Regions from separate parts of the Homo sapiens genome. Here regions 2 and 3 are each linked to region 1. The links come from fine-mapping of genetic effects on gene expression. A gene starts in region 1. Each other region holds a variant in brackets. All regions are shown on one strand. Distances are between the middles of the regions. Region 1 holds the start of COPRS (coordinator of PRMT5 and differentiation stimulator). Region 2 holds the start of LOC124903979 (a long non-coding RNA gene). Region 3 overlaps UTP6 (UTP6 small subunit processome component).

Region 1 (10,630 bases):
TGTTAGAGGTGAGCACAGGGACAAAGGGGAGCAGGGGCACTGCAGGCAGAAGACCAGAACCCATCTAATCACAATGGGCAGCACCTAGTGCCTCCCTCTGACATCAGGGAGGCCGGAAGGTACATTTTCAAAAGGCCTCACAATAACGGAGGAAAGACTGGGGAAAGATAATGGATTTCCGAGCACATAGTGCTTTGGTGATGCCAGGTCCCAGGAGAGAAGGCAATCAGCCTAAAACAGCCATGCTCTTAATACTGGAACAACAGTAACAGTGATAAGCAATAAAGTGATAGTTCAGAGCAAGGGGTCTAAAGCCAGACTGTCTGATTTCAAATCCGTGTTTTGTCAATTACCAAACATCGGACTGGGCCGGGCACGGTAGCTCACCCTTGTAAACCTAGCACTTTGGGAGGCCAAGGTGGGTGGACTGCTTGAGCTCAGGAGTTCAAGGCCAGCCTGAACAATGTCGCAAACCCTGTCTCTACAAAAAATTCAAAAAATTTAGCTGGGTGCAGTGGCATGCACCTGTAATCCCAGCTACTCAAGAGGCTGAGGTGGGAGGATCGCTTGAACCTGGGAGGTGGAGGCTGCAGTGAGCCAAGATCGTGCCATTGCACAGAGTGAGACCCTGTCTCCAAAAAAAAAAAAAAAAAAAAAAAAAAAAGTGTGATTGAGCTGAAATTTACTTAACTAGTTCCATAACATAAATATAGAATTACCATATGACCCAGCAATCCCAGTCCTAAACATATACCCAAAAGAACTGAAAACAGCTGTTCAAATAAAACAAGGATACTCACAGCAGCACTATTTACAATCACCAAAAGGTAGACACAACATCAAATGTCCATCAATGGATGAATGGAAAAACAAAATGTGGTATATGCATATGATGGAATTATTCAGCCATAAAAAGGAATGCAGTGCTGATACATGCTACGGCATGGATGCACCTTGAAAATACGCTAAGTGGAAGAAGCCAGACACAAAAGGCCACATATTGTTATGATTCCCTTTACAGGCAACTCACATTTGCCTATCCAGAACAGATAAACCCACAGAGACAGAAAGCAAATTAGTGGTTGCCAAGAGCTCAGAGAAGGAAGGAATGGAGAATGACTACTTGGTGAGCACAGGGTTTCCTTTTAGGGTGATGAAAAGATTCTGGAACTAGGTAGTGGTGATGGTTGCACAACACTGCCATTGTGCTAAAAGGCTACTGAATTATATGCGTTAAAATGGTTACATGGTAAATTTAGGTTATGCATCTTTTACCACAATTTTTAAATTGTTTTTATTTAACTGTTCTGTGCCTCAACTTCCACATCTGTAAAATGAAGATAGGGTTGTTGTGAGAGTTAAAAGAAAAAAAAAGGCCAGGCACGGTGGCTCATGCCTGTAATCCCAGCACTTTGGGAGGCCGAGGTGGGCGGATCACCTGAGGTCAGGAGTTTGAGACCAGCCTGGCCAACATGGTGAAAGCCCCTCTCCACTAAAAATACAAAAATTAGGCCGGGAGCAGTGGCTCACGCCTGTAATCCCAGCACTTTGGGTGGCCAAGGAGGGCAGATCACGAGGTCAGGAGATCGAGACCATCCTAACAAGGTAAAATCCTATCTCTACTAAAAACACAAAAAATTAGCCAGGCGTGGTGGCGGGTGCCTGTGGTCCCAGCTACTCGGGAGGCTGAGGCAGGAGAATGGTGTGAACCCAGGGGGCAGAGTTTGCAGTGAGCCGAGATAGTGCCACTGCCTGGGAGACAGAGCGAGACTCCGTCTCAAAAAATAAATAAATAAATAAATAAATAAATACAAAAATTAGCCAGGCGATATGGTGCACGCCTGTAATCCCAGCTACTCAGGAGGCTGAGGCACGAGAATCACTTGAACCCGGGAGACAGAGGTTGCAGTGAGCCAAGATTGCGACACTGCACTCCAGCCTGGGTGACAGAGTGAGACTCCATCTCAAAAAAAAAAAAGAAAAAGAAAAAAAGGGGCCAAGCGTGGTAGCTCACACCTGTAATCCCAGCACTCTGAGAGGCTGAGGCAGATGGATCAGGTGAGGTCAGGAGTTCGAGACCAGCCTGGCTAACATGGTGAAACCCCATCTCTACTAAAAATACAAAAATTAGCTGGGCATGGTGGCATATGCCTGTAATCCAGCTACTTGGGAGGCTGAGGTAGGAGAATGCTTGAATCCAGGAGGCAGAGGTTGCAGTGAGCCAAGATTGTGCCATTGCACTCCAGCCTGGGCAACAAGAGCAAAACTCCCTCTCAAAAAAAAAAAAAAACGGCAGGGGGCTGGGCACAGTGGCTCATGCCTTTGTAATCCCAGCACTTTGGGAGCGTGGGCTCACAGTAATCCCAGCACTTTGGGAGGCCTAGGTGGGCAGATCACTTGAGATCAGGAGTTCGAGACCAGCCTGGCCAACATAGTAAAACCCCATAGCTACTAAAAATACAAAAGTTAGCTGGGTGTGGTGGCGCGTGCCTGTAGTTCCAGCTACTCGGGAGGCTGAGGCAGGAGAATTGCTTTAACCTGGGAAGCGGAGGTTGCGGTGAGCTGACATCGTGCCACTGTACTCCAGCCTGGTGACACAGCGAGACTCCGTTTCAAAAAAAAAAGATATTTTGAGAGAGAACACATTCACGTAACTTTCAGTATACTGGCATAATTGTTCTATATTACTATTGTTATTAATCACATATGCATAATTTATAAGTTAAACCATATCAGAAATAGTATATATAGGAGGAAAAAAAAGCAGTTTCAGGCATCCATTGGGGCGGGGGGGTCTTAGAATGTATCCCCTAGGAATAAGGTGAGACTGCTGTACTATTTTCACCGTTTCAAGCTGTTTCTCTCGGTAGAAGGATGGATTTGAACATAAGAAAAGTTCAGGACTTCCCTTAAGGAAGCTCCAAGCAAGGCTTCCAAAGGAGGTTACTGTTCAACTGGGCAGAGAAGGCCACTAAGCAGCAGAGAGGACTGGCTAAAAGAGAAGGTAAATGAGACAGAGGGACTATTCCTCTCCTCACATCCTTGGTCTCCCCAACTTCCGTCTCTGCCATCTACTTGCCTAGTCGATCCATAGCCTTCTCAGTCTCTCTCTCCTGACTGGAGTGGTCAGCTGTAGCAAAGCCAGCCTGCAGGAAGAAGAAATGATTACCAAGGACTTGGGTATCTGGGGTATGCCCAGTATTCAGCTATTGCATCTCAACCCCACCCACTCTTCCATACTCCCCTTGGTGATGCAGGGCTGGGACTCTGCCACCCACATTTCTACTTTGCCCTGTTAAACTGAGCAAGGCTGGAGGGAGATGGGCCTTGTTCCTTCCTATTCATGTAGGCATCACCTCATGACACTTCACCGTGGCAGCAGGAATGCCTTCCTATAGTGGCCACAGAATCCAGTATACAGTTCTGCGAACTCTTGCAGAGCCAGTCTTATCACTGCACCTTCTCTTTAGAGGTCTGGGTCTCAGGACTCTCCTCCAAGCTCAGAGACCCCCTACCATCAGCTGGGGCAGTGCCTTCTCCTTAAAGGTTGGAATTTCAGCTCTGCAGAGCCTTTTCCCTAAGCTTTTAAATTTTAATCAACTTCATCTCTTTGTTCCTTCAGCCATAGGTTGGTAGCTGTTCCCTGCGGTTGCCACCCCCAGGTACACGTTTTACCTTTTCAGTTACTTAACAACTTTATAGCTAGTAAACAACTCTATCAAATTCTCTGTTTCCTCACCAACACACTGAGGTGGGGGAAGCTTTATAATTCCTCTGCAATGCTGAGCACTGAAGGCAGTATTTCTAATCTAACTGAAAATCTTCCCGCACAGCCAACCAAATGCTTCTCTGCTCCCATCACTCAGAAGTTCCTGAAACCCTATGACCTCCAAGACCTCTTTCTAATGAATCACGAAATGTTCCCTGCCTGCATAAAAGACCTGATTTTGATCCCAGCTCTGCCATCCATTCAGAGTGTGACCTTGAACACATCACTTCAATTACTGTGCCTGAGTTTTCTTCTCCAGAAATTAGGGGTGACTGTTCTGACCCTGCAGGGGACTTATGATTAGACACCATTTATGAAAACACCTGGCATGTGGCAAGAATGTAACATTTCTTGAATTTAAATTCATCTTTTCTGCTACATCTAAACTGTACTCGGCACCTGCTCCAATCAGCATTCATTATCTAGTCATGTCTGGGTTTAATAATTCAGTTCCACTCCCTGTAGTTAGTGACAACCTCTGGTCACTGCCGCCCAAGGAGAAGTCAGACCTCTCACCTAAACCACTGCCACGGCCTCCTAACCACCTTCCCATCCAGCCATCTGGCCCAGCCTTACAGAATTAATCACTACTCTGCTCAAAACCTTCAACAGCCCTCCACTGAGAGAGCACAAAATTAGCCATGGCATTCGCACGTCCCCTCTTCTCCCACTCCCATCAACCTGTTGAGCATAGTTCTCTGCATGCTCTGAGACCCAACTCCAGGCCATGTGCCCTGCACTTTCTCATCTCCACGCCTCTGCAGACACCACCAGCCTCTCACCTTGATCCTTTCCTGCTATGCCCTGACAAAATTAGTCCCATTCTATTCTGCACTCCAAAGTAATTTTCTTTGTAAGTGTCGCTGCATTTTTCATATCTTACTTTGGCTAAGTACCATCTTTGAGGCATCATTCATCCAGTCGGTATGTCTATCTCCTGTGCCAGGCACTATGCTAGGCTGTGCAAACAGCCCTAACAGAGGGTTCCTACCTTCAAGCCGCTCAGCACCTAGCCGGTACAGACTGTAAACAAGGACAGGTAAGAACTGTAATAACGGTCTGTAACGTTCTCGGGAAAACCAGGAGCTGTCTAGCTTACATGAAAACAAGTTTCTGGAAACCCTGCGTCAAACAGGGCCTTTCTGGTTTCAGTAAGGAGAAGGGGGAGCGCGCATGTGACATCTGGGGCTCAGGGTTAGCTGGCATCCCCACCAACGGACAGAGGTCCACAGGTCTGTAAAGTCAAGTCCCTCTCCTCGCCGCCCTCACCTGGCCCTCGCCCAGGCTCCTGGCAGCGGGCCCCGGCTCTCGGTCACCAGCGTCACCTCCCATTTACCAAATCCGCAGCGGCGCCCAGCGGGCGGACAGCCGTCTCTGCTGACCCAGAGCGCCCACCCACGCCCTCGGCTTTCCCCGCCCCGCAGCCCCGCGGCCCCGCGGCCTGGCCGTTTTCAGCTCGAGCGCGAGCCCAAACAGCGCTCCGTGTCGCGGGGCGGCCCGAGGCCGGCCAGAGGCGCTTCCCCGGCCCCGCGGCCCCCGCCCAGCCCGGCCCCGCGACTTCCCGCCCCAGGCTGCGGCTGGCTGTTGCTCCTGGCCCCCACGCGGCGCTCACCTCCGGGCTGGGGGGCGCCCCCCGCGCGCTAGGCAGCGGCGGGCCCCGAGACGGCTCCGCGGCCCCCTGCGCCTGGGCCCCGGCGGCCTGAAGGTCCATGCCCTGCGGCCCGCGGCTGGTCGCCCTGGACGCCGTGGGCCACGTGACGCGCCGGCCCGGCTGCCCGCCCGAGGATCCGCCGCAGAAGCGCCAATCAGCCTGGGGAGGGGGTGGGTACCGGCCAAGAGGGCGGGGCGCGGGGGTGTCACGAGCAAGCGGGGGCGGGGCGGCGCAGGGGGCGGGGCGCGCGGCCTCGCGGAGCCCGCCCCTCCCTCCCAGCGCGAAATCTGAAACAATCTCGGAGACGGATTTTGGAAACTCCTCTCGGTGCATATCCTAAGGCTGCACGACTAGCTGCGTGTGAAACGCCAAGCGTACCCTACTCGGCCACTCGGGGTGTGCTCCAGCTTCAAAACCCCGCGTGGGTAAGACACATGAGCAACCCAGTGACCTCCACCTTGAGCTAATGATCGTCTTTGAAGTTAATCCATTAGAAACCAAGATAGATGATTAAGACACAAACTGCAATATGCAGTGGACACAGAATACAGGCCACGACGCTTACTCATAATAATCCTGAACATTCGGGATTCCTGTATTTCCATGCTCAACGCCTGATACCGACAACCTAATTATTTCCCATTTTGCCTCGAAAGGTGGCTTCTGGGGATAGGCAGGGCCTGAGCTGGGAACAGCCCAACTGGAAAGACAGCCTTCCCTGCCTTCCCCACAGTGCCTAACCTCTAATAACAAACCAGCTCAAGGTGTGCTAATCACGTCAACATCAGGACATGAGACCCTCTTCCTTCATCCCCCTCAAAGACTGTGTTGTTTGTACAACACAAAAGGCATTTGAAAAAATTTAGCATAAAACTGACACACAATATTCGATATTATTTTTGTTCTATATGTAGATGTTCCTACACAGGAGTCAGTATCCCCAAGGCTAACTGCCTCTAGGTCAGCAATGTCCAATAGAACGTTCTTTAATGGTGGAAGTGGAAATGAAAGTTCTACTATCTGTACTGTCCAATATAGTAACCATATACCTACTGAGCACTTGAAATGTGGCCAATGTGAATAAATTGAATAATTCTAATAAATTTAAATTGCTACATGTGCCTTGGAGCTACTGTTTCTAACAGTGCAACTCTAGGTGTACTAGCTAGATGTGTTTTCATAACCTGCAATATTGAGAATCAGATACAGGGATGTGATGACCCCAGGTGACCACCCTTATAGCCTTGTGTTAAGGAGACTACCACTATCCTCTTTGCTCCCTAATCTACATATCTCTTTCGTAAAATTAAAGTGCCAAATAAGATTAAGAATGTTAAACATCCCAGGACTTAAGGGACAGGAAAAAGAGGAATTTTTTTCTTATTTTAAAACAAATGACAAGAAAACAGGGGCTGGCCGCGGTGGCTCACTCCTGTAATTCCAGCACTTTGGGAGGCCGAGGCAGGCAGATCACTTGAGGTCAGTTCAAGGCTATCCTGGCCAACATGGTGAAACCCCATCTCTACTAAAAATACAAAAATTAGCCAGGCGTGGTGGCACACACCCATAATCCCAGCTACTCGGGAGGCTGAGGCAGGAGAATCACTTGAGCCCGGGAGGTGGAGGGTGCAGTGAGCAGAGATTGCCCCACAGCACTCCAGCCTGGGCGACAGAGTGAGACTTGGTCTAAAAAAAAAAAAAACCAGAAAGAAAAAGAAAACAGTACAAAAGCTTAAAATAAAAATGTTCTAAAGTAGACTCTAATACTCATAGAAATTTAATATATAATAAAGGTAACATCACAAATCAGCAGAGAGAAACATAACTGCCCAAATAGTGTTGGCAAAATTAACTGCTTGGGGAAAAAGAGTTGTTCTCAGCACCAGGAAGAGCTTCCAAAGCATTTTAAAAACAGACATCACACATACACACACAAAATACCTCTGGGCATCAAAAATCGCCACAAAAGGTGCCTATAATCCCAGCTACTTGGGAGGCTTTGGCAGGGAGAACTGTTTGAACCTAGGAGGCAGAGGTTGCAGTAAGACCACACCACTGCACTCCAGCCTGGACCACAGAGCAAGACTCTGTCTCAAAAAAAAAAAATCACCACAAACAAGGCTGGGGGTAAAATTATTTGCAACAAATGAGAAACAAGATATTAATATTCTGAATATGTTTTTAAAAACTCTGGCCAGGCACAATGGCTCATGCCTATAATACCAGCACTTTGGGAGGTTGAGGTAGGAGGATTGTTTGAGCCCAACTGTTTAAGAGACCAGCCCTGGCAACATAGCAAGACCAGTCTCTACAAAAAAAAATTTAAATTAACCAGGCATGGTGGTGTGCACCTGCAGTCCCAGCTACTCAAGAGGCTGAGGTGGGAGGATCTCTTGAGCCCAGAAGTTAAGGCTGTAGTGAGCCATGATCACACCACTGCACTCTAGCCTAGGTGACAAAGCAAGAACTTGTCCAATTTAAAAAAAAAAATTAACTCATAAATTAGTAAGAAAAAAAATTTTTAAATAGTCTAAGGATGTAAAAAGATGAGAAACATAAAATACACTAACTTCACTAATATCAAAGTATGGTAAAACAATGACATATCACATTTCACCTATAAAATGGTAAAAATAAAAGATATAATTACACCAGTACAGGTAAGGGTACTGACACTTTCATGTATTGCTTGAAAGAAGGAGCAAACCAGCAATACATATCAGTATTCTCTAAAAGCAGTATCCTTTGATCCAGTAATTCCACTGTCGGATGTCAATCTCCTAAGGAAATGGCCAGGGATGTGAACAAAGATTGACAAGAATCTTCATCAACAGCATTTATCTAATTTTTAAAAAAATTAGAAATGACAGTCCAGGCCAGGCTTAGTGGTTCACGCCTGTAATCCCAACACTTTGGGAGGCCAAGGCGGGTGGATCATGAGGTCAGGAGTTCGCAACCAGCCTGGCCAATATGATGAAACCCCCGCACTACTAAAAATACAAAAATTGGCTGGGCGCGGTGGCGGGTGCCTGTAATCCCACCCAGCTGCTCGGGAGGCTGAGCCAGAACCACTTGAACCCGGGAGGTGGAGGTTGCAGTGAGCCGAGATGGAGCCACTGCACTCCAGCCTGGATGACAGAGCAAGGCTCCATCTCAAAAAAAAAAAGACAGTCTAACCAGAGGATTAGTAAAATATATTATGGCTCATTTTTACAATGTAATGTTACGAATTCATTAAATGTTTTTAAGGCTATTTAATGACACAGAAAAACAATACTAAGTGAAACGTAACAATAAGCTACACTGAAAGCTTCTCCCAGTGACAGGATGCTTTTTTTTACCACACTATTCTATTTCCTCCATATTTTCCAGAACAAATGCATACCACGTATCTTTTATAATGAGAATAAACCAACAAAACTGTACTTTCTCCTTTTTTTTTTTCCTTGAGAAGGAGTTTCGCTCTTCTTACCCAGGATGGAGTAGCAATGGCATGATCTCGGCTCACTGCAACCTCCGTCTCCCAGGTTCAAGCAATTCTCCTGCCTCAGCCTCCCAAGCAGCTGGGATTACAGGCACCCACCACCACACCTGGCTAATTTTTGTATTTTTAGTAGAGACGGGGTTTCACCATGTTGGCCAGGCTAGTCTCAAACTCCTGACCTCAGGTGATCCGCCTGCCTCAGCCTTCCCAAAGTGCTGGGATTACAGGCGTTGAGTCACCATGCCTGGCCACTTTCTCCTTCATTTTAACTGGCTCTTAGGTCGAGATTAGAGATACTCATGCTTGACCTGGGATAATTTTAAAAAAACCCAGTCGTATGCTATCCATGTATTTTGGGAAACATTTAGGACCTGTGGAAGATCGGGCCTCAACATTAAATCAGCAATTCTCTTTACTGGAATCAGATTAGCACATCAAACTGAGCAGTGTCATGCACCTATAATCCCAGCTACTCAGGAGTCTGAGGTGAGAAGGTCACTTGAGTCCAGGAGTTCAAGACCAGCCAGGGCAACAGAGCAAGACCCAGTCTCAATCATAAAAATTTTTTAATTTTTAAAAAGATTTAACAAGTTAACATAAAATTAAAGTGTGTCTCAAAACCAGACAGCCATCTTGTCTGCCATCACTGAGCAAATTACAGATGGACTCAATACAAATTTGCCCACGGGGCTTGCTTGCAATACTATTTCACAAAGCTGACTGTATTCTTCATCTTCATAAATGGCCAGTCTGATGCATAGCATGTTTAGCTACAAATGCCTCTGCTGACTCTCCCTGCAACATTTTCATCGCTCGCCAGTAGATCTGTCCACAGTTCTCAGGTCTACCAAGGGGGTGGTTCAATTCTTCTTTCATATAATCCATCCAAAGATCTTTTAAAAAAAAAACATACAATTAGATAACTGACAGAGTGTTATTAGGTAACCTTATTAAATATCAATTCAACTCAAGATTTCTAAGAAACTTAACTTCTCATTGTTACTTCCCTAGGACGCTTTGTTTAACAATACCTCTCTTAGCTTCTTTAAAGTATAGTGGCAGGTTTTGGTTTGTTTTTGTGTGTTTTTTTCTTTTTTGAGACAGGGTCTCACTGTGTTGCCCCGGCTAGAGTGTAGTAGCGGGAACATGGCTTACTACAGTCTCAACCTCCTGAGTTCAAGTGACCCTCCTGCCTCAGCCTCCAGGGCAGCTGGGAACACAGGCACACCACCATATTAGGCTAATTTTTTTATTTTTTGTAGAAACAGGGTTTCACTATATTGCCCAGGCTAGTCTTGAACTCCTGGGCTCAAGCAATCCTTCTACCTTGGCCTTCCAAAGTGCTGGGATTACAGGCGTGAGCCACTGTGCCTCATCAGTTTTGTTTTTTTGTTTTTTGTTTTTTTTCCCAGTAGAAAACCTTCACATCAATCATAAAAGTCTATTTTATTCAATGAACTCAAAAATACTAAACTTTTTGGCTAGGCACAGTGGTTCACACCTGTAATCCCGGCACTTTGGGAGGCCAAGGCGGGCGGATCACCTGAGGTCAAGAGTTCAAGACCAGCCTAGCCAGCATGGCGAAACTCCATCTCGACTGAAAATACAAAAATTAGCCGAGCATGGTGGCACGCGTGCCTGTACTCCCAGCTACTTGGGAGGCTGAGGCACGAGAATCGCTTGAATCTGGGAGGCAGAGATTGCAGTGAGGCAAGATTGCGCCACT
Region 2 (10,630 bases), 390 kb after region 1:
AGGACGCTTGCCTGGGTGTCTCCTGGCTGGTTTCTCTGTGCTGTGGAGCCACCTATGTTTAGAACCTCTTGCCGCGCTCCCTCTGCTGAGCTTATATTTATGCTAGATCAAATGTTTAAACTGCTTTTCTCTTTGTGGATCACAAATTTTAGAACAGAAAATGCGGGTTCCGGAGGGTGTGAGAGACAGGGACAACCATATGTATTGCTTCAGTAGATGCTTCAGAGAAAGAAGACACTTAGTTCTCTAGTTGTTCACCCAACCCAATACGGTTTCTGCTCCTTAAGCTACATTCCTATAAAGATTAGCTTTCAGCTGCTACCACCAAGAAACAGTTCAAGTGCTGCTTATGTTGTATTTTAACTAAAGATCTCAAGAACAAAAAGAAATCCCTAGATGCTGACATTCCAAGCAAACTTAGGTCAGGGGTGGAGGCGGGGAATTGACAGATAAAGATTTCGGTGAGCAGGCAGTTCTCACCTTAGGTGAGTTCACAGTGTGCAGGGGTGCTTGGTGGGATGGTATCCATTTCTTTCATCTTTGAGAGATTTAAGGGGTGCTTACAATAAGGGGATACCCAATCTGCCTATCCTGACACATTCAACACGAGTTCTTAAATTCTCAGCTAATGGGTTGGATTCCCATTCATTTTATAGGCAGGATGGCTCTATTTGGATGACCCTTCTCAAAAAGTAAAAACAACAAAGGCAAATAAATCCTTCCGAGAGAGAGTATGAGGCTATGGCAGACAAGGTAAAATGCCTGTCACAGGAGATAAATTATTTTGCTCATTAACAAGTCATTTGTCCTTTGATTTCTCAAAGCCCTAGAGAAACAGGAGCTCAGCTGACAATGACCTGAGGGGACCCCTACAGTGCTTCAAACAGTGGATGGAGGAGGAGATGCCTTCCTGGTTAAGAAATTATCCCTGAGCCCTTGTAGAGGACAGTCCAGCACAGGAAATTCTGGAACTACAAGATGAAAATGTGTGCCAGCATGCTTCTACTTTCAGGGTACAGTCTGAGGCCCTAGGGAGGAGGAGTTCCTCAAGTGCTTTGACCTCTTGCCAGGACAAAGACGGAGAAGTATTTAGAAGCATCTGAATTTGTTAGCTCTTCAGTTTTCCTCCTCCACTCCCTACCCTGCACACAGAGCCTCAGAAGGACAGACCAGCTTCACCCCCTTACCAGCAATTACTGAAGAATCACACCCCACCCACCTCAGGATCACTGATCTCCTTCCTATATGGGAACCCTGACCCTTGGAGAAAAACCGCTGACCTACAAACTCCCCACATTCACCTAGAGAGCACCAGAGCAGAGTTCTGAGTGAGATAAGCAGTCCTTTAGGGGGATCTGTTTTTCCAGCTCTCATTTTTCCCCCCTTATTTCCTTTATCTCTAGAATTCTAAGAGCTGTACTGTTCATTGTTTCTACCCATCATTATTAAGGGAGAGATATGGAAACATTCCCATGGTAACAGTTTCATCTCAAAATATCTGAATGCTATTAGCTGCCTTTCCACTCCAGGGAAAAGATGAGATTTTTTTTTAAAAAAAGAAATCTTTATTCTCAGGATATAGTTGACAGGTCCTCTCCACACTGCAGGGAGGCCTGCCCAGATCAGTGGAGATGGGAAAGGGCTCATAAAGCCAAATTTGTTTCTTAGCTGACTTCACTTCCTGAACATTTCAAAAACTTATTATTACATGGTTCTGACACCGACCCAGAGAATTGCTGGTGGAAGTACTGATGAAAACACCAACATCTCTGGGGGAAGTCATCAACTGGGAGCATATGAGATGGGCCAGCACAGACTTGGCTCAAAGACCCACAGACCACACTGTGTTACTGGAGAGCAACAGGTTTGAACAAACTCAGAGGTATGCGCTGGTTGCCATCAGAAAGCTGGGGAGAGAAAATGGGATAGGAAGCGTTGTACCTCATGTTCATGACACGCTTTATGGCTGGCCAAGGGCTTTTCCTATTGAAATGGGATGATGGAGGAGATAGGACACATTTATCTTAAACATGCATCTTAATTATCTATTGCTGGCGGGGTGTGGTGGCTCACACCTGGAATCCCAGCACTTTGGGAGGCCAAAGCGGGTGGATCACTTGAGCCCAGGAGTTCGAGACCAGCCTGAGCAACATGGTCTCTATCCATCTCTACAAAAAGTTAAAAAATTAGCCGGGTATGGGACTGCACGCCTGTAGTCCCAGCTACTCAGGGGGCTGAGGTGAGAGGATCTCATGAGCTGAGGAAGCAGAGGTTGCAGTGAGTTGAGATTGTGCCACTGCTCTCTAGCCTGAGTGACACAGCAAGACCCTATCTCAAAAAAATATATTTTATATATATAATATATATAATATTATGATATATATTATATAAAAATTATATATATAATATATAATATATGATATATCATATATGATATATGATATATCATATATCATATATATCATATATCATATATATAGCTGCATGACAAATTATTCCAAAACTTGGCAGCTTAAAATAAACATGTTATCTCACAGTCTCTGTGGGTCAGGAATTTGGGAGCAATTTAGCTGGGTGATTCTGGCTCCAGGTCACTAATTAGATTGTATTCAGACTGTCAACCAGGGCTGCAGTCACCTGAAGGCTTGACTGGGGCTGGGAGATCCCTTTCCAAGATAGCACATTAGCCATTGGCAGGAGGCCTCAGCTCCTCACCACATGGGCCTCTCTTCACAGCGCTGCTTGAATGACATGGCAGTTGGCTGACCCTGGAGCAAGTGACCCAAGACATAGAAAACAGGAGGAAGCTGCACTGTCTTGTTTGACCTAGTCTCAGAGGGCACACATCATTGCTTCTGCCATATTCTGTTCTATAGAAGCATGTCACTAAGTCCAGCACACATGTTTGGGGAGGGGAATCGAGCCACCTCTTGAAAGGAGAAGTATCAAGGACTCTGTGAACATGTTTTAGGACTATGATGTCATGGCAGTTATGAAAACTAATGTGTCAGTGCTGTATGTACTGATATGAAGCAATCTCCAAGATGTATCTTCAGTGACAACAGCATGATGCAGAACGCTAGGTAAGTCTGGATACTATTTGCAGTTTTAAAAAGGGAGGAGGGAGCCAGGCGCGGTGGCTCACGCCTGTAATCCCAGCACTTTGGGAGGCCAAGGCGGGTGGATCACAAGGTCAGGAGATTGAGACCATCCTGACTCACACAGTGAAACCCCGTCTCTACTAAAGAAACACAAAAAATTAGCCAGATGTGGTGGCGGGCACCTGTAGTCCCAGCTACTTGGGAGGCTGAGGCAGGAGAATGGCCTGAACCCGGGAGGTGGAGCTTGCGGTGAGCCAAGATCGCAACACTGCACTCCGGCCTGGGCAACAGAGCGAGACTCTGTCTCAAAAATAAATAAATTAATTAATTAATTAATAAAAAAGGGAGGAGGGATAAATATGCAGTTATGCATAGACTACCTCTCAGAGGACATACAATAAACTGGCCTCAAGGAGGAGGGCTGGGGACAGGTGGGAGAGAGATTTGTTTTCTGTACCTTTTGGATTTTATTTGAGCAAGTATTACTCTTTGATAATAAAATTTAATTTCAAAAATAGATTAAAATAACATAGAAATAAATAACATTGTTGAAAGAACTTAGAATGACCAGTTTGAGATGGAATTTTTTTTTTTTTGAGGTGGGGTTTCACTCTTGCCCAGCAGGGAGTACAGTGACACGATCATAGTTCACTGCAGCCTCGCCCTCTCAGGCTCAAGCACTCCTCCCACCTCAGCCTCCCAAGAAGCTGGGACTACAGGCACATGCCACCACACCTGACGAATTTTAAAAAATTTTTAGAAGAGGTGAGGTCTTGCTAGATTGCCCAGGCTCAAATTCCTGAGTTAAAGCAGTCCTCCTGCCTCAGCCTCCCAAAGTGCTGGGATTACAGGCATAAGCCATTGTGCACCTGGTTGGAATTCACTTTTTAAAGCTATTGGGGCCAGCAGTGAGCTATGATTGTGCCTGGGTGACAGAGCAAGACCCTGTCTTGAGGAAAAGAAAAGAATAAAACTATCAGGGTAGATGATTTTAGGGGATTGGTTTGCTTGCTTTCTTGCTTGTTTTCTTGGAAGCAAGTGTACTTTCTTGGCAGGCATGTTTTGAGACAGGAGGCTATAAGCAAGATGTTGAAGGAAAACAGACCAAGCTCTCTGAAGGAGAGCACTTGGAAGAGAATCTCGTCCAGTTCTCATCCCGTGCATGCCCACCTACCTGGACTTGCACATATCTGCTATATTTTCCCTTCTGTGACTACAGAGAAACTGTCCACAGGCAGCTCCTTCACTTACGCATTAGAGTCTGGCCTCTGTCGTCTGCATCCTCCAGCAATTCCCCCTGCCTTTCTTGGATCTTTGATTTGTGTTCCTCTGGATTTATTAACAAACAAACAAACAAACATTACTTCTCCCATCTGAAAAAAAAAATCTCTTCGTCCGCATTTCTCTGTTCCCTTTATAGCTTGCTTGAAAGAGTTTCCTCAGTGTCTCCTATTCTGTCTCTTTTCAGAACCTGAGATATAGCTCACACTCCATAAAATTCACCTTTTTAGCATGTACAATTCAGTGGTTTTTAGTACAGTCACAAACTTGTGCAACCGTCACCACTATCTCATTTCATCACTCCCGAAAGAAACTCTGTACCCATTAGCAGTCACTCCCCAATCCTCCTTTCTCCGAACCCCTGGTAATCACTAATCTACTTTCTGTCTCTACGGATTTGCCTCTTCTAAATATTTTATATCAATGGAATCATACAATATGTGGATCTTTGTGACTAGCTCCTTTCAGATTGCATAACGTTTTCAAGGTTCATCTGTATGAACCTTGTATCAGCATGTATCAGCATTCCATTCCTTTTCATGGATGAGTAATGTTTCATTGTATGGAAATATCACATTTTGTTTATCGTTCATCAATTTATGGATATTTGGGCCGCACGGTGACTCACGCCTGTAATCCCAGCACTTTGGGAGGCCAAGGCAGGCGGATCACTTGGGGCTGGAGTTCGAGACCAGCCTGGCCAACATGGCAAAACCCTGTCTCTACTAAAAATACAAAATTAGCCAGGTGTGGTGGTGCATGCTTGTGATTCTAGCTACTGGGGAAGCTGAGGCATGAGAATCACTTGGACCCAGGAGGTGGAGGTTGCAGTGAGCCGAGATCACCTGGGCAACAGAACAAGACTCTGTCTCAAAAAAAAAAAAATTATGGATATTTTGGGTTGTTTCCGCCTTTTCATTATTATCAATAATGCTGCTACAAACATTCATATACAAGTTTTTGTATGGGCATATGTTTTCAATTTTCTTTTCTTTTTTTATGACAGGGTTT[C/T]ACTCTGTTGCCCAGGCTGCAGTACAGTGGCATGATCTCGGCTCACTGCAACCTCTGCCTCCCAGGCTCACACGATCCTTCCAGTTCAGCCTCCCCAGTAACTGGGACCACAGGCACAGGCCACCACACCCAGCTTTTTTATTCTTTCTTTCTTTCTTTCTTTTTTGCAGTTTTGCTCTTGTTACCCAGGCTGGAGTGCAATGGTGCAATCTCGGCTCATCGCAACCTCCACCTCCCAGGTTCAAGCGATTCTCCTGCCTCAGCCTCCCAAGTAGCTGGGATTACAGGCATGTGCCACCATGCCTGGCTAAGTTTTTTTGTATTTTTAGTAGAGACAGGGTTTCTCCATGTTGGTCAGGCTGGTCTTGAACTCCCGACCTCAGGTGATCAGCCCGCCTCAGCCTCCCAAAGTGCCAGGATTACAGGTGTGAACCACTGTGCCCGGCTAGTCTTTCTTTCTTTTCCTTTTTTTTTTTTTTTTTTGTTTTTTTTTTTTTGGCGGAAACACAGTCTTGCCATGTTGCCCAGGCTGATCTCCAACTCCTGGGCTCAAGCGATCCTCCCTCCTTGGTCTCCCAAAGTGCTGGGATTAGGCGTGAGCCACCACACCAGGCCTCGGATTTTCTATACATAAGATCATGTCATCTGCAATTAGAGATAGATTTATTCCTTCCTTTCCAAAGTATATGTCTTTTATTTATTTTTCTTTTTTAATTGCCCGGCCTAGACCCCCCAGTACAATGTTAAGTACAAACGACAAGAGCAGACATCCTTGTTCTGTTCTTGATCTTAGGGGGAAAACATTCAGCCTTTTCAGTAGTAAGTTGTCGGTTAGCTGTGGCTTTTCTCTCTCTCTCTTTTTTTTTTGAGACAGGGTCTTGCTCTGTCATCCAGCCTGGAGTGCAGTGGTGTGATCTTCGTTTACTGCAACCTCCTCCTCCTGGGCTCAAGCAAGCCTCCCAGCCCCCAAGTGTCTGGGATCACAGGCACACACCACCACGCCCGGCTAATTCTGTTTTTTTTTTTTTTTTTCTTTTCGGAGACGAAGTCTTGCTGTGTCATCCAGGCTACAGTACAGTGGTGCAATCTCGGCTCACTGCAACCTCCCCCTCCCGGGTTCAAGCAATTCTCTTGTCTCAGCCTCCCAAATAGCTGGGATTACAGGCACGTGCCACCATGCCCAGCTAATTTTTGTATTTTTAGTAGAGACAGGGTTTTGCTATGTTGGCCAGGCTGGTCTTGAACTCCTGACCTCAAGCGATCCGCCCGCCTCGGCCTCCCAAAGTGCTGGGATTATAGGGGTGAGCCACCGCACGCAGCCTCCGGCTAATGTTTGTATTTTTTAGTAGACAGGGTTTCACCATGTTGCCCAGGCTGAGCTGTGGGTCTTTCATAGATGTCTTTTATCAGATTAAACCAATTCTCTTCCTAGTTTGTTGAGTGTTTTATTTATAATGAAGCAACATTGGATTTTATCAAGTGCTTTTTTTCATTTACTGAAATGATCATTTGTTTTTTGTCCTTTATTCCATTCATACAGTGTGTGTATTACATTGATTTTTGTATGATGAACCAATCTTGCATTTCTGGGAAAATCCCATTTGGTCATGGTATATACTCCTTTTTATATATTGTTAGATTCAGTTTGCTTGTATTTTGTTGAGGATGTTTGCATCTATAGCATAAGGTGTATCATTGTGTAGTTTTCTTTTTTTTTTTTTTTTTTTTTTTGAGACGGAGTCTCGTTCTGTCGCCCAGGCGGGAGTGCTGTGGCGCGATCTCCGCTCACTGCAAGCTCCGCCTTCCGGGTTCACGCCATTCTCCTGCCTCAGCCTCCCAAGTAGCTGGGACTACAGGCGCCCGCCACTGCGCCCGGCTAATTTTTTGTATTTTTAGTAGAGACGGGGTTTCACCGTGTTAGCCAGGATGGTCTCGATCTCCTGACCTCGTGATCCGCCCGCCTCGGCCTCCCAAAGTGCTGGGATTACAGGCGTGAGCCACCGCGCCCGGCCGGTGTAGTTTTCTTGTGATGTCTCTGTCTAGTTTTGTTATCCAAGTAACACTTTTCTTTTTTTTTCTGAGATGGAGTCTCACTCTATCTCCCAGGCTGGAGTGCAGTGGCGTGATCTTGGCTCACTGCAAGCTCCACCTCCCTGGTTCACACCATTCTCCTGCCTCAGCCTCCTGAGTAGCTGGGACTACAGGCGCCTGCCACCACACCCGGCTAATTTTTCGTATTTTTAGTAGAGACAGCGTTTCACTGTGTTAGCCAGGATGGTCTCCATCTCCTGACCTCGTGATCCACCTGCCTCGGCCTCCCAAGATGCTGGGATTACAGGTGTGAGCCACCGTGCCCGGCCCCAAGTAACACTTTTCATGGTAATACTGGCCTCACAGAATGAGTTGGGAAGTGTTCTCCCCTTTTCTATTTTTTGGAAGAATTTTTGAAGAGATTGATGTTCCTATTCTGTCTTGAGCCACTCCTCCCAGCTTGTTACCTCCCCTACCATACCGAAACTGCTCTTGTAAAGGTCTCCAATGTCCTCCACATTGCCAAATTCAACAATCAGTTCTCAGCCATCGTCTTACCACTCAGCAAGAGCATCTGATCTCAGCCATCGTCTTACCCTCAGCAACAGCATCTGATCTCAGCCATTATCTTACCCTCAGCAACAGCATCTGACACATTTCCTTTCTCCTCGGAACACTGTCTGCTTCTGGCCTCCACAATCTCCTGGTTTTCTTTCTGCCTCACTGGCCACTATTTTCCGGGCTTCTTTGCTGGATTGTCTTCCTCTATCAGATATCTTAATGGTGAAGAGACACAGGGCTGAGTCCTTGACACCTTTTTTCTGTCTTTTCTCAGATTTTTTGTAATTTTATTTCTCTCCTAAATTTAAACACCAACTATATGCTGAAGCCTCCCAAATTTAGAGCCCAAATATGGTCTCTCTCTTTATCTTTAGATTTATATATCCTCTGCCTATTAGACACCTTACCTTGGATGCTGAATGTATATCTCAAACTTAACATGTCCAAAATTAAACTTTTGATCTATTCCACCAAAATCTGCTATGCCCACCATCTTCCCCATCATTATTAACCACAACTTTAGCTTTTCAGTTGATCAGTCCAAAAATATCCGAGTCATCCTTATTGGATACTTTCTTTCCCTCACTCCCTACAGTCATTCTATTAGCAAATCCTGTTGGGCCTACCTTCAAGATAATCAGAGAGTGGCCACCTCTCACCACCGTCATGATCCAATTATCTCCCTAATCTTTCTCTAGCTGGGATTGATGGACTAGGCTTCTACTGGTCTCCCTCCTTCCCCCTTTGCCCACCTTCAGGCTGTTCCTGGGACAGCAACCACCTCAGAGTTTCTGTCATAAATAAATGTTGAATTTTGTCAGATGATTTTCTGCATCTATTGAGATTATCGTATAGTTTTCCTTCTTCAGTCTGTTAATATGGTAAATAACATAGTTTTTGGTTCTGTTTTGTTTTAGATGGGATCCCTGCCTCCCAGGCTGGAGTGCAGTGGTGCAATCATGGCTCACTGCAGCCTTGATCTCGGCTCACTGCAGCCTCGATCACCCAGGCTAAAGCAATCCTCCCACCTCAATCTCCCAAGTAACTGGTACTATGGGCGTGTGCCACAACGCCTAGCTGACATTTTAGAAACAAAATCTCATTATAAGGTCTCATAATGTTGCCCAGGCTGGTCTCAAATTCCTGAGCTCAAGCAGTCTCCCTGCCTCAGCCTCCCAAAGTGCTAGGATTACAGGCATGAACCACCACGCCCAGCCAACATTGATTTACAAATGTTAAACCAACTTGCTGTGCTGAGATTAACCCCATTTGGTCACGATGTATTATCCTATTCATATATGTTAGAGGTGACTTGCCAACATTTTAAGAATGTCTGAACCTATGTTCATGAGGGATATTGGTCTGAAGTTTTCTTTTCTTAAAATGTCTCAAGTGTTTGTTGAGTGTATAAATGAGAGCCTGTTGGTCCAAGGGGGGTGGGTGGGAGAGTGTATTAAGAAGGAAAAAAATAGACTGGGTGCGGTGGCTCACGCCTGTAATCCTAGCACTTTGGGAGGCTGAGGCAAGCGGATCACCTGAGGTCGGGAGTTCGAGACCAGCCTGACTGACATGGAGAAACCCCCGTCTCTACTAAAAATACAAAATTAGCCAGGTGTGGTGGCGCATGTCTGTAATTCCAGCTACTCAGGAGGCTGAGGCAGGAGAATCGCTTGAACCTGGGAGGCGGAGGTTGCGATGAGCCTAGATCGCACCATTGCACTCCAGCCTAGGCAATAAGAGTGAAACTCCATCTCAAAAAAAAAAAAGAAGAAGAAGAAGGAAAAAAAATAGCACATTTATAGGGCTGTTTCCAAAGCCCTTTTCACATACCATTTAATTGTCATAACCAAGAGGTGTAGATATTACTATCATGCCCATTATAAGAGAACTAAGACTCAAGGAGTTTAAGGAACCTGTCCCAGACCTAGCTAACCAGAAGGACTGGGACTTGAACCCATGCCCTCTGTCTGCAGATGCCATGTTCGAGGTTAGTACCCAGTGAGTGAAGACCTTTAGGGACAGGCAGAAGGGCTCCTTTCAGCTTTGATTATGCTTGTGACCATTTCCCAAGGGAAGGAGCAGAGCTTCTGCCATGAACATGATACAAGTAATTCCATGTTTCTTACTTACAGCATCTTAAGAAAACTCCAGCATGGCAGAATGAGCACTCCACCTGCAGATGCCCAGGAGAGCCTGAGACTTATTTTTAGCCAGAATAGGAAAATGCCAAATATCTTCTAGGAGAGTTGGCAGCTGGAGGGCTGCTGATACAGCTGTGTTTATATAAGCTGGTGCAGAGGGGAGAATGGTGGTTGCAAAGGAGGCAGGAGGTGCTTAATCCACCTATACACTTGCTGAGGTTTTCTTGGGAAGTTCTGGTCAGGAGTTACTGCTCAGGAGAGAGCGTCATGCAGACAGTCTGGAGATTGCCAGGAGCATAGGTGCAACTGGCTTCCTTGAGTCAGAGCATTTGTCAAAGCCGCCCTTAAATGACCTGTCCACTGGTCGTTGGCCTCTTCCCACCCTATTATCCAGGGGTAAATAAAAGAACAGAAGCTCTTTCAAATGGTGCCATTTTATTTATTTTTTGAGACAGGGTCTCTGTCACCCAAGCTGGAGTTCAGTGGCGCCATCACGGCTCACTG
Region 3 (10,630 bases), 24 kb after region 1:
GAGGCAGAGGATGCAGTGAGCTGAGATCGCGCCACTGTGCTCCAGCCTGGGCAACAGAGTGAAACTCCGTCTCAAAAAAAAAAAAAAAAAAGGAATGGGTGGACAAACAAAATAAACCCAAATCATGACTCTTGTTCTAAGTGCTTTTCACTGTATAATACTCCTCCCTTTGCTAGTACAGATTTCATTTTTTGCATAGGCCAAATACTGGGAAACACATATAAACACACTTCACATACCGAACTCCCAAGTGGCCTTCATCTTAAGACTATATATATTTAAAACATGACTCTGGCACAAAACAACTGGAATAAGGTATTTGTAACTGGCACAGAATATTTTCTCTATGTTCTTACCAACTGCTTGTATTGGCATTCTGACAGAAGCTTCAGTTCATGTGCCTTCCTGAATACAGTCATGGTTCTTTCCAACCTCTGAAAACAGAAAAATCCCTCAGTTCATTACAAAGATCCCAGCAGGGGCCTCTGGCCTCTGACATGAACAAAAGCAGTTTTGCGCATTTCTTAAAATTCAAAGAAGCTGACTTGCTCCTGCATGGTGGTTTCACTTATGAATAGATGCAATGGGCAGCTGCACCGAACAGAGCCCAGTTACACGAGAGCCCCTCCTAACCTGGCGGCAAACCAGACTCAGACCTTTAGAATGTCACGTCACCCACAAGGAGAGAGAGAGTGGCTAAACATAAAAGTTCTCAGAAACTGTGCCAGACACCAAAAGATCTGTGCTTCTGTTCTTTCAGAAGGCAGTCACTATCTAGTCAACCACTGTAACCATGTAACAACCTCACCTTCCCTCTAAGGAACCCACTATTTGACTTCTTAGTAAATCTTTCCAAGCAAAAGGTGATGTAACACTTCCACATGGCCTCTGGAAAAGTCAGAAAGATTGTGTTGATCAGATCACTTAGTTCAACATTCATCACATCAAAGTTATTAAAAGATAAGGAAAAAAACAGTCATCCTACACCTTTACTTCAAGGGGAAAACTCTCCTCTGAAGAAGAGTTTAAATCAGCCTGATTTTAAGAAGTGTTATGCTGACTACAGCCAATCAAACACCTCAAATATTGGGGGAAAACAACTGAGTAACAGCTTAAATATAAAAATTGAAAGCCTTATCCAGGTTATATATCCCCTCTGCCTTTATTCTACATTATTACAAAATAAAAATTAAATCACTTTCCAAAGATAATTAAGGGCGAGGCAGTGGTTCACATCTGTAATCCCATCACTTTGGGAGGCTGAGGCAGGCTGATCACCTGAAGTCAGGAGTTCAAGACCAGCCTGGCCAACGTGGTGAAACCTCATCTCTACTAAAAATACAAAAATCCATGGGGCATGGTGGCATGCACCTGTAATCCCAGCTACTCGGGAGGCTGAGGCAGGAGAATTGCTTAAACCTGGGAGGAAGAGGTTGTAGTAACCCGAGATCGTGTCACTGTACTCCAGCCTGGGCAACAGCGTGAGACTCTGTCTCAAAAAGATAATTAAGGATGTCGGTAATCCTAGCAAGTTGGGAGGCCGAGGCATGCAGATCACTTGATTCTAGCAGTTCAAGACCAGCCTGGGCAACATGGCAAAACTCCATCTCTACAAAAAATACATTAAAATTGGCCTGGCGTGGAGGCATGCGCCTGTAGACCCAGCTACTCAGGGGGTTGAGGCGGGAGGATTGCTTCAACCCAGGAGGCAGAGGTTGGAGTGAGCTGAAATTGCGCCACTGCACTCCAGCCTGGGTGACACAGCAGGATCCTGTCTCAAAAAAAAACATAGATAATTAAGAAATAATAATTGAAGAATCTTAGAAATTATTTCCTAAGCTTCCCCCAAAATAGATGAACATAAATACCACTACTATGGAGGAAGGTCATAAAAGTTAGAAAGCCAAGACCAAGTTAGAAAGCCAGGCACGGCCAAATGCGGTGGCTCATGCGTGTAATCCCAGCACTTTAGGAGGCCAAAGTGAGCAAACCACCTGAGGTCAGGAGTTCAAGACCAGCCTGGCCAACATGGTGAAACTCCGTCTGTACTAAAAATACAAAAATTAGCCAGGCATCGTGGCACACGCCTGTAATCCCAGCTACTCGGGAGGATGAGGCAGGACAATCGCTTGAACCTGGGAGGTGGAGGCTGCAGTGAGCCGAGATCACACCATTGCACTCCAGCCTGGGCAACAGAGTGAGACTCTGTCTCAAAAAAAAACAAAAAACAAAAAAAACCCAGGCACGGTGGCTCACGCCTGTAATCCTGTAACCCTAGCACTTTGGGAGACCAAGGCAAGTAGATCGCCTGAGCTCAGGAGTTCGAGACCAGTCTGGGCAACACAGTGAAACCCCGTCTCTACTAAAATACAAAAAAATTAGCTGGGCATGGTGGCGGGCACCCGTAGTCCCAGCTATTTGGGAGGCTGAGGCAGGAGAATTGCTTGAACCCGGGAGGTGGAGGTTGCAGTGAGCCGAAATCGAGCCACTGAACTCCAGCCAGGGTGACAGAACAAGACTCTGCCTCCCAATAAAAAAAAAAAAAAAAGGCCAGGCTCATCGTAAACTATGTTACAGAGACATCCCCAATATTGATTTTGGCAATGGGAACAGGAGCTTAAGTTTCACAATCAGGGATACTATTCCTTCTATATCACACCATGGTTTGGTGAAGTTCACCTGTTGGCAGAGTCTTCACTGCCTCTTCATACACAGCACAGCACCTCTCCTCCTTCCGGCCGACCTCCACTGCTTTGGCTTGTTTCGTTGTAGGCTGCTCTTCTGTCTGTGACTCAATCTCTAATTCTCGCCTTGCCACATAATCCCAAGTGAGAGGATCATCTGTGTGTAGAGCCTGAAGGCTGAAAAATACAATTTACTGTTATCAATCCCACAACAAGAAACTGACTCAGAATATCAGAGAAACAGTTACCTGTGCTTAAAAAATCTACACAGGACATCCCTGTAACAACTGCAGTACCATAAAAACTATTTCCCAGGCCGGGCCCGGTGGCTCACGCCACTGGGAGACCAGCACTTTGGGAGTCTGAGGTGGGTGGATCACCTGAGGTCGGGAGTTCGAGACCAGCCTGACCAATATGGTGAAACCCCATCTCTACTAAAAATACAAAAATAAGCCAGGCATGATGGCATGTGACTGTAGTCCCAGCTACTAGAGAGGCTGAGACAGGAGAATTGCTTGAACCCAGGAGGCAGAAGTTGCAGTGAGTCGAGATCGCATCACTCCAGCATGGGCGACAGAGCGAGACTCTGTCTCAAAAAAAAAAAAAATATATTTCCCAACAGGCTCTCCAGAATATGTTCACTAACTGTAGAAATTTTGTCAATGGATCAGAATTGTCCCACTTTTTCACTTTTTTTTTTTTTTTTTTTGAGCCAGAATCTCATTGCCACCAAGGCTGGAGTGCAGTGGCACAATCTCAGTTCGCTGCAACCCCCATCTCCTGGATTCAAGCAATTCTCCTGCCTCAGCCTTCCAAGTAGCTGGAATTACAGACGCATACCACCACGCCCAGCTAATTTTTGTATTTCTTTGGGAGAGATGAGTTTTCACCATGTTGGCCAGACTGGTCTCAAACTCTTGACCTCAAGTGATCCTCCTGCCTTGGGCTCCCAAAGTGCTGGGTGGGATTACAGTGTGAGCCACTGCACCTGGCCAGAGCTGTCCCACATTTATTGAGTTTCAGAATATTTCAGGTATCATTCACAAATGTTAACTTTCAAGTTAGCTCTCAAAGTCAAATCAGCAGTTATCTGTGACAACACAAGACTCCAAGAGACCTGAAGAACTTTTTTTTGTTTTTGAGATAGGGTCTGTCACCCAGGCTGGAGTGCAGTGGTGCCATCATGGCTCACTGCAGCCTCCACCTCCCAGGCTCAGGTGATCCTCCCACCTCAGCCTCCCATGTAGCTGGTACTACAAGTGCATGCCACCATACCCAGCTAATTTTGGTAGTTTTATTGTACAGAGTTTTGCCATGTTGCCCAGGATGGTCTCCAACTCCTGGGTGCTCAAGCAATAGTCCATCCCAAAGTGTTGGGATTACAGCCCCTGTGCCCAGCCTAAAGAACTTTATTATAGCTGAGCTCTTCATTTTCGTTTGTGTGTGTGTGTGTGTTTGTGTGTGTGTTTTAAGACAGAGTTTCTCTCTTGTTGCCCAAGCTGAAGTGCAGTGGCACGATCTCAACTCACTATAACCTCCGCCTCCTGGGTTCAAGCGATTCTCCTGCCTCAGCCTCCGGAGTACCTGGGATTACAGGCATGTGACACCACACCCAGCTAATTTTTGTATTTTTAGTAGAGGCGGGGTTTCACCATGTTGGCCAGACTGGTCTCAAACTCCTGACCTCAGGTGATCCGCCCGCCTCGGCCTTCCCAAGTGCTGGGATTACAGGCATGAGCCACTGCATCTGTTTTTTTTTTTTGGAGACAGAGTCTTCTCTGTCACCAGGATGGAGTGCAGTGGGACGATCTCAGCTCACTGCAACCTCCACCTTCCAGGTTCAAGCGATTCTCCTGCCTCAGCCTCCTGAGTAGCTGGGATTACAGGTGCATGCCATCACACCAAGCTGATTTTTCTATTTTTAGTAGAGACGGGGTTTCACCATGTTGGCCAGGATGATCTCAATCTCTTGACCTCAAGTGATCCGCCCACCTCGGCCTCCCGAAGTGCTGAGATTACAGGCGTAAGCCACCACACCCAGCCCAGGGTTCTTCATTTTCTAAATAATAGAGAAAAAGCACAACCTACTCCTCTCTCAAAACCCTGAAGATATCCAAACAACAGATTGATTCAAGTTCCA[T/C]TTCCCCTCCTGTCAAAGGAAGAGGTGTTACCAAAAAACGGAAGTACCCACAAGGTAGGCTAAAAATATTTTTTTTTTCTTTTTTTGAGACAGGGTCTCACTCTGTCACCCAGGCTGGGGTGCAGTGATGCAATAACAGCTCACGGCAGCCTCAACCTCACAGGCTCAAGGGATCCTCCCACCTCAGCCCCGCAAGTAGCTGGGACTACAGGCACATGTCACCATACCCAACTAATTTTATTGTTATTTTTTGTAAAAACAGGTCTCGCCATGTTGCCGAAGCTTACAAATAATTGTTAAACCATATAATCAGACATTAAAGAATAAAATTACCAGCCAGGTGTAATGGCTCACACCTGTAATCCTTGCACTTTGGGAGGCTAAGGCAGGAGGATCACTTGAGCTCAGGAATTCAAGATCAACCTGGGCAACATAGTGAGACCTCATCTCTATAATTAAAAACATAAATAAATAAAAATATAATAAAGAAATAAAAAGAATAAAATTACCAGCACTCAACTATAAACATATGAGTATAACTCTCATTTTATGGATAAATGCCAGGAAAATAGAATTTAGAATTTTATATAAGCTTTAGATTTTTTTTTTTTTTTTGAGATGGAATTTTGCTCTTGTTTCCCAGGCTGGAGTGCAATGGCACAATCTTGGCTCACTGCAACCTCCACCTCCCGGCTTCAAGTGATTCTCCTGCCTCAGCCTCCCGAGTAGCTGGGATTACAGGTATGCGCCACCACGCCCGACTAATTTTGTATTTTTAGTAGAAACGTGGTTTCTCCATGTTGGTCAGGCTGGTCTCAAACTCTCGACCTCAGGTGATCCATGCATCTCGGCCTCCCAAAGTGCCGGGATTACAGGCTTAAGCCACCGTGCCTGGCTAGATTTTTTTTTTTTATTGAATAAACTATTTCCCCCAGTAAGTGAATCAAAGAACTCAATCAGGAAGATACTTTTTTTCTGAGACACGGTCTCACTCTGTGACCCAGACAGGAGTGGAGTGGCAGGATCACAGTTCACTCCAGCCTCAACCTCCCAGACTCAGGTGATCTTCCCACCTCAGCCTCCAGAGTAGGTAGGACCACAGGCATGCACCACCACACCTAGCTTATTTTTTGTAGAGACAGGGTTTCACCGTGTTGCCTAGGGTGGTCTCAAACCCCTGAGCTCAAGGGATCCACCTGCCTTGGCCTCCCAAAGTACTGGGATCCCAAAGTGTGAGCTACTACACTGGGCCAGGAAATTTTTTTTTAACGTAATATGATATTAATTTTTTTTTTTTTTTGAGATGGAGTTTTGCTTGTCACCCAGGCTGGAGTGCAATTGTGGGATCTTGGCTCACTGCAACCTCCGCCTCCCAGGTTCAAGCGAGTCTCCTGGCTCAGCCTCCCAAGTAGCTGGGATTACAGGCATGCACTACCACGCCCAACTAATTTTGTATTTTTAGTAGAGACGGGGTTTCACCATGTTGGTCAAGCTGGTCTCAAACTCCTGACCTCTGGTGATCCACCCACCTCAGTCTCCCAAAGTGCTGGGATTACAGGTGTGAGCCACTGCACCCGGCCAATATTAGCTTTTATTCCAGGGATTTAGTGTGGTATCTTCTTTCTCTTCTACTAAATATCCAACCTCAAACCCTTAATCTCAAGATCAGAAATAGATATATTCACCTTTCTACTAACTTTACTTACTCATCATAAATCTCTTTTTGTAGATCTTTGGCAAAGTCAAATAGCTGTGCAATCGAAAGCAGTGACACGTGAAATTCTGCACCTAAATTTAAAAAGCAGGGGAGGGGAAGTTTATTGCCAATAAGAATCACTTTACTTTAAAAGTAGCATTCTTTTCATGTACTGGAGTTAATCTTCTTGTTTTTTGAAATGAGAAATAGAATAAAATAGAAGAAAAGTCATCCCATAGTCCCCTCACCCCAGTGTCCCCCTACTCAAGCAAAGCTATTGTTAATCTTTGGAGTATTCATAAAAAAAGAACTAATTTTCAACTCCCCACGATTTAATTACTCCATGAGAACTTACTGAGGATTGGTGCAATGGCTCACACCAGTTATGCCATCACTTTGGGAGGCCAAGGCAGGAGGATCACTTGAGCTCAGGAGTTCAAGACTAGCCCGGACAACATGGTGAAACCTCATCTCTACTACAAGTACAAAAACTAGCCAGGCATAGAGGTCCATGCCCAGCTACTCAGGAGGCTGAAATGGGAGAATCACCTGAGCCCATGAAGTCGAGGCTACAGTGAGCCATAATTGTACCACTGCACTCCTGCGTGGGTGACAGAGTAAGACCCTGTCTCAAAAAAAAAACATGGAAGGATAAATGAGTACACGCTGGGTACAGTATACACTGCTCGTTGATGGGTGCACCAAAATCTCAGACATCACCACTAAACCTGTTCCCCAAAAACCTATTGACATTTTTATTTTTTTGAGATGAAGTCTCGCTCTGTTGCCCAGGCGCTCTCAGCTCACTGCAACCTCCACCTCCCGGGTTCAAGCAATTCTCCTGCCTCGGCCTCCCAAGTAGCTGGGATTACAGGCGCCCACCACCACACCCAGCTAATTTTTGTATTTTTAGTAGAAATGGGGTTTCACCATGTGGGCCAGGCTGGTCGCAAACTCCTGACCTCAGGTGATCCACCTGCCTTGGCCTCCCAAAGTGCTGGGATTACAGGCATGAGCCACCATACCCGGCCCAAACCTATTAAAATTTAAGGGAAAAAAATGGGAGTAGAATATAAATTTTAAAAAGAGACTTATGCCAGGCATGGTGGCTCACGCCTGTAATCCCAACACTTTGGGAGGCCAAGGCGGGCAGGTCACAAGGTCAGGAGTACGAGACCAGCCTAGCCAACATAGTGAAACTACGTCTCTACTAAAAATACAAAAATTAGCTGGGCAGGGTGGCACACACCTATAGTCCCAGCTACTTGGGAGGCTGAGGCAGGAGAATCACTTGAACCCAGGAAGCAGAGGTTGTGGTGAGCCGAGATCACGCCAATGCACTCCAGCCTGGGCAACAGATCAAGACTCCATCTCAAAAAATAAATAAGTTACTGAAATGTTCAATTATAGCCTAGGAAAAATAAGTATTTTCTGAAAGAAACAGGACACTATTCCTACAGAGTTTTATACACATTCTAATGGAAAATTTCAAAACTAGCTAAAGATCTTCATTAAGAAAAGAATGTTTCACTTTCCTACCAAAAATAATGTTCAAAAGATACCTACCTTTAATTATGCTTACAGAATTTTTGTAGATGATCCATGCCAACTCGCCCTTAAGGATTTCTTCAGAATAATCAGGATTCTCCTAAAGAGTGTTATATCAAACGTAACTTAACAGGTAGTACAAGGAGGAAAAGCACTAGGACGAAAATTAACAATCCTAGACTACCTGTGCCATATGACCACTGGTAAATCATGTCTCTCTCTCCGGGCCAGTTCCCTCACTTGTAAAGTGTGCAGCTTGAACAAGATCACTGACCTTCCAACTGTGTTCTCTGAGGCTCCAAGAGTGGTGGCAAGATCACATGGCTTAAGGCCTCACTCTCCATTTGGACCAAAACAGGTCAGATTTTACATGTCTTGTTTGCGCTTCTCTGTAACATTTTATTTGAATAAAAAAGTCCTGGCCTGGCGTGGTGACTCATGCCTATAATCCTAGCACTTTGGGAAGCCGAGGCAGGCGGATCACTTGAGATCAGGAGTTCATGACCAGCCTGGCCAACATGGCAAAACCCCATCTCTACTAGAAATACAAAAATTAGCCGGGAGTGGTGGCGGGCACCTGTAATCCCAGCTACTTCGGAGGCTGTGGCAGGAGAATCACTTGAACCCGGGAGGCGGAGGTTGCAGTGAGCCAAGATCGTGCCAGTGCACTCCAGCCTGGGCGACAAGGAGCAACACTCCGTCTGAGAAAAAAGTTCTAAGCTGGAAACCACAATAACAGACAATAGCAAAGTTTCTTCTCAGCTCTAACATTCTAAATCTTTTAATTATTCTGTCATATAAAAAATTATATAAAAAGGGAAAGAAAGAAGGCCAGGAAACCACACATTTCACAACCTTTCTCAAGCTCCTTGAATCCATTAATATATCACTTTATGAGATCATACAGCGTTAAAGAATAGTATTTGGCTATTCTGTAAGTAACAATTTTGAGAACCACATTAATTAGTCCAAATATCTATTTTTATAGCATAAAGCTTCATTTTCCTAACTAAGTCCATTTATAAGTAACACTAACTCATCTGGAAGTTTCAAAATGTAACAACATTAAACATTAAAGCTTGAACCCGGAGGCAGAGGTTGCAGTGAGCCAAGATGGTGCCACTGCACTCCAGCCTGTGTGACAGACCGAGACTCCGTCTCAAAAAAAAAGAAAAAAAAAGAAAAATATATTCCAAATATTTTCTCTTACTCCTAAGCAGGCTCAAAATGTTATACATCGTTAGCAAGTGAGAATAAAATAATTAGAACCTTACCACATCCATACTGGCTTTTTCAAATTCTTCCTTCTCCTTCCTCAGTTTTTCAGCATGCATCAGCTCCATCCTAAAGTACTACAGAAGAGAAATAAACTGAAAATCTTTGGAGATGCTTTTTAAAATTTTTTTGAGACAGGGTCTTGCTCTGTCACCCAAGCTGGAGTGCACTGGTGATGACAGCTCATTTCGGCCATGAATTCCTGCACTCAAGTGATCCCCTTGCCTCAGCTTCCTGAGTAGCTAGGATTAGAGGTGCATTCCATCACACTCAGATAATTTTTTTATTTTTATTTTTTGTAGAGACAGGATCTTGCTACGTTGCTGCCTGGCCTGAAACAACTGACCTCAAGTGATCCTCCTGCCTCAGCCTCCCAAAGTGCTGGGATTAAAGGCATGAGCCACCACACCCAGGCTTAACTTTCATTTAAGAATTAAATAGCAGGCTGGGCACGGTGGCTCATGCCTGTAATCCCAGCACTTTGGGAGGCCAGGCGGGCGGATCACTTGAGGTCAGGAGTTCGAGACCAGCCTGCCCAACATGGTAAAACCCCATCTCTACTAAAAATACAAAAGTTAGCGGGGCATGGTGGTGCACACCTATAATCCCAGCTACTTCGGGGGCTGAGGCAGGAGAATCGTTTGAACCCCGGGCGTGGAGGTTGCAGTGAGCCAAGAACACACCATTGCACTCCTGCCTGAGCAACAAGAGTGAGACTCCATCTCAAAAAAAAAAAAAAAAAAAAAAAGAATTAAATAGCAGTTTCTCTTTTATCCTGACAAATGACTCAGAAAACAGTGCAGCTTCCAATACATTCTTTCTCTTATTTGGGATTTTATCTAAAGCTTGGCCCTCAAATGTTCTAAGGCACCATCCATAAGGGAGTAAGTCCCCGAAGAGAGAAAGGAAGTACTACCAGGTATCTATCTCAAGAAAAGGAGACAGAAAGAACATGGAGAAAAGAGGAAGACAAGGCAAAGAAGCCAGAAGAGGGCTTCTTTGGAGAACCAAGGGAACAAGAAAAAAAAATAAAAACAAAAGTATAAAGAGGCTAAATCTGGCTCCCAGCTAAAAAAATGTTAGAGTCTAGTTCCCTATTCCTTCCAACCACAGGAAGGAGGCGGGGGTTCCAACCTCTCAACTAACTTAGAAGCTGCAGTGTCAACACCTACAAAAAGATGTTTTTCCCTGGCCGGGCATGGTGGTTCACACCTGTAATCCCACCACTTTCAGAGGCTGAGGCAGGCAGATCACCTGAGTTCGGGAGTTTGAGACCAGCCTGCCCAA

Evidence for each region.
Region 2: its variant is fine-mapped to the expression of COPRS in whole blood (TOPMed, PIP 0.94).
Region 3: its variant is fine-mapped to the expression of COPRS in whole blood (TOPMed, PIP above 0.99).

The regions. Positions count from the first base shown.
Region 1 is chr17:31,853,720-31,864,349 of GRCh38, forward strand. It overlaps COPRS (coordinator of PRMT5 and differentiation stimulator), which reads right to left and starts at 5,525. Exons shown (of 4, transcript NM_018405.4): 1 at 5,382-5,525; 2 at 3,080-3,146. The coding sequence starts at 5,480. UTP6 (UTP6 small subunit processome component) reads right to left here. Exons shown (of 19, transcript NM_018428.3): 19 at 7,185-9,797. The coding sequence ends at 9,640. RefSeq lists an enhancer at 4,512-5,186 and a silencer at 5,246-5,675.
Region 2 is chr17:32,240,971-32,251,600 of GRCh38, forward strand. It overlaps LOC124903979 (a long non-coding RNA gene), which reads left to right and starts at 2,514. Exons shown (of 2, transcript XR_007065709.1): 1 at 2,514-3,083. RefSeq lists a silencer at 1-114. The variant C/T (reference allele first, on the strand shown) is at 5,394.
Region 3 is chr17:31,877,894-31,888,523 of GRCh38, forward strand. It overlaps UTP6 (UTP6 small subunit processome component), which reads right to left. Exons shown (of 19, transcript NM_018428.3): 8 at 9,343-9,420; 9 at 8,087-8,168; 10 at 6,531-6,612; 11 at 2,680-2,861; 12 at 809-888; 13 at 357-434. Among named protein-coding and RNA genes, the nearest start is that of UTP6, 18 kb to the right of the region's middle. The variant T/C (reference allele first, on the strand shown) is at 4,825.